Linked DNA regions of Homo sapiens: region 1 is linked to region 2. Evidence: fine-mapped expression QTL. Tissue or cell type: tibial artery. Region 2 holds a variant in brackets; the other region holds the start of a gene. All regions are shown on one strand. Distances are between the middles of the regions.

Evidence for each region. PIP is the estimated chance that this variant, and not a neighbour inherited with it, causes the effect.
Region 1: CRTC3 starts here. The variant in region 2 is fine-mapped to the expression of CRTC3 in tibial artery (GTEx, PIP 0.98). The same link has a PIP of 0.9 or more in aorta, breast and tibial nerve.

Annotation. Positions count from the first base shown.
Region 1 is chr15:90,528,198-90,531,103 of GRCh38, reverse strand. CRTC3 (CREB regulated transcription coactivator 3) reads right to left here and starts at 1,181. Exons shown (of 15, transcript NM_022769.5): 1 at 901-1,181. The coding sequence starts at 1,032. RefSeq lists an enhancer at 78-237 and silencers at 628-807, 828-1,577, 1,678-1,727.
Region 2 is chr15:90,559,082-90,561,987 of GRCh38, reverse strand. The region is part of intron 2 of CRTC3 (CREB regulated transcription coactivator 3); the gene reads right to left. Among named protein-coding and RNA genes, the nearest start is that of CRTC3, 31 kb to the right of the region's middle. The variant G/A (reference allele first, on the strand shown) is at 1,534.

The sequences.
Region 1 (2,906 bases), 31 kb after region 2:
CTCCTTCAAACTGTCTCCCCCGCCTCAGTCCCCCAGAATCTGCAGATCCTCCCCCATCCTCCCGATGGTCCTCCAAGGTCAGCATTCAGGATCCTCAAGGCCAGCCCCACTCCTGCTGACCCCCCTTCTCTGCAACCCTGCGCGGACACTCCGGTTGGCTCTCCATCCTCCACTGCCTCACTCAGCGGTTACCTAACCTCTCCAGGTGTTTGTCCCGGCTCGCGCCTTACTCATTCCTCCAGGTCCCTCTCCAGTCACCAGCGACGCTTGTCAGTTCTCACTAAATATCCCGGGCCGAACAAAGTAAACTGGACCCGATAAAGCACCTCCAAGGAGTAAAAGGAGCAGAGCCTCACACTCGACACGGAATCCCGTCGTGGTTCCAACAACCCGAGCCACCCCAGGGCCGGGCCCTGGATGGACTTGTGCACAGAGCTCCCCCCACGAGCGCGTGGGACCCTGGGGTGCCCGCGGCCTTCCACGCCGGCAGAACAGCAGGGCTCGATGGTGGGGGATGTTCGGAGCGACCAGAAGCCGCGCCGCGCCACCCGGCCGGCCTCCGAGCTGTTTGCGATTTCCTCTCGGGGCTCCTCGTCCTCCTCCCCCTCAGGCCGCCCTCGCACGGCCGCCCGCCTCCACGGGCTTCACCCCTGCCCATCTTCCCGCACACGGGGCCGGGCGACCCTCCCACCTCAGCCCGGGATCGCGAACGGCTAGCGGGTGTCGCCAGGCGGGGAAACGCCGAGGCCGCGGCCGCTCCGGTCCCCCTCCCAGCCGCCGGTTCCCGGGCGCGGCCCCCGCCCGGCCCCGCCATCGCCTTGGCCCCGCAACCTCTCACCCGCCGCGCGGGTCCCGCCCGCGGCCGTGGCCGCCCCCGCCCGCGCCGGCCCGGGCCCTCACCCGCGACAGGGTGAGGTCGGTCATGAGCTGCTCGAAGGCCCGCGTCTCCTCGGCCTGTCTCTGCGTGTGCAGCGCGATCTTCTCACTGAACTTCCGCGGGTTGGCGCTGCCCGAGCCCGGCGAGGCGGCCATGGCGCGGACTCTGCGCGGGCAGAAGCGGGAGACGGCGGCCGTGGGGCCTGTACCTCGGCCCACCCGTCCGTCCACAGGCCGCCGGGGCCGCCGCCCGAAGCCAGTCGTCCGGCGCGACCCGGCAGAGGAGCCGCCGCGGCCCCGGAGCCAGCGAGCGGCCGGGAGCGCGCCGAGGTCCGCCCCCGTGCGCCCGGCCCCGCCCCACCCTCGGCGGGGCCCGCCCGGCCTCCAGTCTGCCCCGGCCCCACGCTCGCGGGCTGAGGGCTGCTCCCCGCTTCCCGGTCTGGCTCGGGACCCGCCGCCGGCGGCCACCTGGAGGGACCCCCGTCAGCCCGACAAAGTGGCCCCGGCGTACGGGGAACGCTGGGGTGCCACTCCACGGAGACTCTCCGACCCAGGGATGGCCTCTGCGTCTACGCGACGTGGAGAACACAGCCTGTGCCCGCATCCCCCCTCCCCCAGCCAAATTACGAAGATTTTCTTCTCCAGGTGGAACCTGGGCGACCGGACCTCGAGCAGGTCACCTCGGGCCCCCGCAGGGGGTGCGCCCATTTTGCCTGGGGCCTAACGTCTGCCCGCCAGCCCTGCCGCTCCAGGCCCCCGGCCTCCAGCCGCTGGTTTCCTGACCTCTCACACCCACCCCTCCCCGCTCCAGTCAACCAGAGCTGTATCTCGGCTTTAAAAACTGCCTCCTATTCTGCACAAACTACAAACACCATCCAGCCCTGCTGCAGCCTTGGCTCCATAGCCCCGGCCCCCTTTCCAGGTTCTTTCCAAGTCTCCCTACGGCCTCTCCACTCCTGTGGCAGCTTCAGCAGGTGCCAGCCCCACCTTGGGAAACCAGCGCTCAGCCTCAGCGAATTTCCCCTTCTTTTGGGGGAGTGAATGGATGTCTTTCTCTGTCGCCCGGTCTGGAGTGTAGTGGTGCGATCTCGACTCACCGCGGCCTTGACCTCCCGGGCTCAAAAGATCCTCCCACCTCAGCCTCCCGACCAGCTGGGACCACAGGCGGGGGTCACCACGCCCGGCTAGTTTGTAAATGTTTTTGTAGCAATGGGGGGCGGGGGTGGGTCTCGCTATTTTGCCCAGGCTGGTCTCGAACGCCTGGGCTCAAGCGATCTGCCCACCTCAGCCTCCCAAAGTGCTGGGATAACAGGCGTGGGCCACAGTGCCCGGGGAGTTTCCTCTTTGGAGTCCAGAAGCTACTCTCAGCATAAATGTTGATGTGCACAAAGATGTCCCGGGGAGCCCTGAGCGTGTGTCAGTGTTCTGTAAAGAGGGAAATATTAGAGGCCTACGGAAGAGTACGGAAAATAATATTAATACTACCCACGCCCCCCACTATCAAGATTAAACAGACATCAATACATTTTGCTGCATGTACTTGGGATTTATTAAAGACATACAAAATTAGTCATAACGACGGCCCCACTCTCATTTCTTCTTCCGCCCCACAGATAGTCACCGTGCTCAAGTTGGTACATATCATTCCAGTTTGTGTTTTTATACTTTTATTACATATGATGTAGAGATCCAGCAATGCTATATGGAATACCTAATTTTGTTTTTAAACTTTACAAAAATGACACCATACTGAATAATCATTTTGCATCTTTTTTCATTCTCCATTATGTTTTCGAGATATATTTGTGTCAATTCATTTATATGATAATATTCCATTATGTTTTTCACCTGTCTCTCAGACATAGCCTATAACTGGACTTTTTAGAAAATGTATTCTGAAAATATATCTCTGTTAGCTAGAATTTAGCTATTTTTATTAATTATAATTGGATTTTTTTTTCTGTTGTATTTTGTGTTATTTACCATGCTTTTTTTTTGTTGTTGGTTTGTTTTTGAGACGGAGTCTTGCT
Region 2 (2,906 bases):
TATTGCCTTTGAGCAGGGAAATAATTACAATGTCTGGCATCAAGGCCTGTGTAGAATCTTCCACAGATGTTATTCTGTCTCTTGGAAAATATCCACAGTAATAATAAACAACTAAAGCTTCATTTTAAGTTTAAAGTATAAAAACTAGCTGTTTCATAACATAGGGACCAATTCTAACTCCTGACTATTGTGAAATTTTGTAGGGAATTGGAACAAAACTTTGGCTGGTTCTACAGCCAAAACATGTAGGGACTTAAAATTCTAGTTAGAGATAATCACTACTTTAAATGTAGTGCCTCTTCTCCCTCTTTTGTGAGCTGGCAGTCAGAGGCTGGATTAAGGAGATAGGTAAGAGGATTGCTTCATACTAATATGATTGAATTTAACACAGATTCAAAATGCGAGGGAATATAGAGACCTAGCTTCTTTCCTGGTCCTACACTGCCACCGCCCACATGTGCCTTCTCTGTGGGTATTCTTTCTGCCTCTCTTGAAAGCTGCACTGAGTCAAGGCACTAACATACAGCCTGGTTGACTTCAGGACAGGCCGATTAAGACTTCAGCAAAAGTATTTTTATCTAGTCTGTGAAGAATTAGTAGGATGCAACTAGCCTGTATGACATTTAAGAAGCTTCATATAATGAACAGCAAAAGCTTAGTTCTCTAGGCCTAGGTAGGATACCTGCAAAGAAAGAGGCAAATGGTACCAACAATCTATTGAAGTCAAATTAGAAGGCTGCAACAGGGAGTTTATACTAGGAACTTTGCAATATGTATTGAACAACAACTGTGCTGGGCATTATTCTAAGGATTTACATGCATTACCTAACTTAATCCTCCCAATAGCTCTATCTTAGGTACTATTAGTAGCCACATCTTGCAGATGAGTGAGCTGAGACACAGAGAGACTAACGATCTTGTCTACGATCCAGTGCTAGTTAGTGGTGGAAGTGGTCACCAGATCCCCACTCTAGGGACTGCACTTGTGACCATCAACATGAAAATTTTGTTTATTTTGACATATTGGATGGCAGGTCATAGAGACTTATGACAGAGACTTACTAAATTGCTTGATCAAGAAAAGGGCTTGTATGGTATTAAATTTTGTTGACCAATTTTGTTGAACCCCCCAAGCGGCTTACAAGACAGTTCTTATGTGAGACATCTCCACAAACTAAACCTGAACCTGCAGGGTGCAATCAGGAGCCTTGGTAATTCATTCCAGGACTTTTATTGTTCAGACTCAAACAGGACCTGCAGCTCCAGCAGGCAGCATCTGGGCGCTGCTCTCATTCCCTATTGTTCTGACAGCCAGACCTTTGAGGATCTGCAGAGCTGGTGGCCTGATAGGAAGTCACACGATTTCAGAAGAGCCTGCCAGGTTTTGACCATATGAATTATGTGTCTAGTTTCTGAGGCTGCCTCTGGAGTTAACCCCACAGGGGATATCTGAAGTATTCATCGTCTGCCCCAATCATGCTGCGTAGCTGAGGAGGGTGGAGTAAGCTAAAAGCGAATTCTGCCCACAGGGAA[G/A]ACAACGGATGCCTGGTAACTTGGAGCTAAGCCCACAAATTCCAGAACTCTTTTGAAATTTCTGATTATGTGGCCAAAGTCTGGGAAATGTTTGGGTCTACTTGGCTCTGAGAAAACACATTCTCTTTCAAGAATCTGGTAGAACCAAGGATGAGAGCCATCATCAGTGACGTAAACTGGAAGTCAGGATTTAGAGGTGTCCTGACTGAATGGACATCCCACAGAGTTCCAGCCCTCAACAAATACTAGCTGAATGAATAAATCCCTATTCTCAAGTATTTGATCAACCACCAAACCTGGAGCGCTAACTAGATGAATAAAAGAAGGTTCCAAAAAACATCATCAAACAACAAATGATGGTATGAGGAAAGCTATTTATAACATATAAGACAACATGTATCTCTAACATTCGAAGAACTCCTACAATTTGATAAGAAAAAAAACTGAGAAAAGGTTATGAACAGGAAATTCACAGAAGAGGAAACCAGAATGGCCGGTAAATACATGAAAAAGGCCAGACATGGTGGCTCACGCCTGTAATCCCAACACTTTGGGAGGCCAAGGCGGATGGATCACTTGCACCCAGGAGTTCGAGACCAACGTGGCCATCAAGGCAAAACCCCATCTCTACCAAAAACATAAAAATGAGCCGGGTAACAAAAATTAGCCGAGTGTGGTGGCATGCGCCGGTGGTGCCAGCTACTTGGGGGGCTGAGGTGGGAGGATCACTTGAGCCCGGGAAGCAGAGGTTGCAGTGAGCCAAGATCACACTATTGCACACCAGCCTGACTGACAGAGTGAGACCTTGCCTCGAAAAACAAACAAACAAACAAACAACCACAAAATGAAAAAATTTCAACTTTTCCAGCAATCAGGAAAATATACATGAAAATAATGCACCCATGATCTCATCTAATTCTTCCAATAACCTGGGAGGTAGAATAATTATTTCATAAGTAAGGATATTAAAGTTTAGAGAGGTTTTAATTCAACCAGTAATTGACAGAGCTGCAACTTGAACATAAATCTGGATAATAATAAAGTCTGTGTTTATTCTAACTTGCTGCTCTAGTGGAATACTTGTGTGGTGGCTCAGGTCCTTTTGGGCAAGTCGCCTAACCTCTTAAGACTCAGTTTTCTCATCTGTAAAATGGGAGTCATAAAAGTACCATCACATAAGGTTACTGTAAGAATTCAATGAGATAATACATACAAAATTCTCAGAATAGTGCTAATACTCAACTATTTGATTCATTCATTCAAGAAATATTTATGGAACTCATACCCTGGCCAGGTACTGCTCTAGACTTTGGAAATACAGCAGTGAACCAAAGCACCCTTGCTCCCAGGGGGCTTGGAGGAGACAGAATATA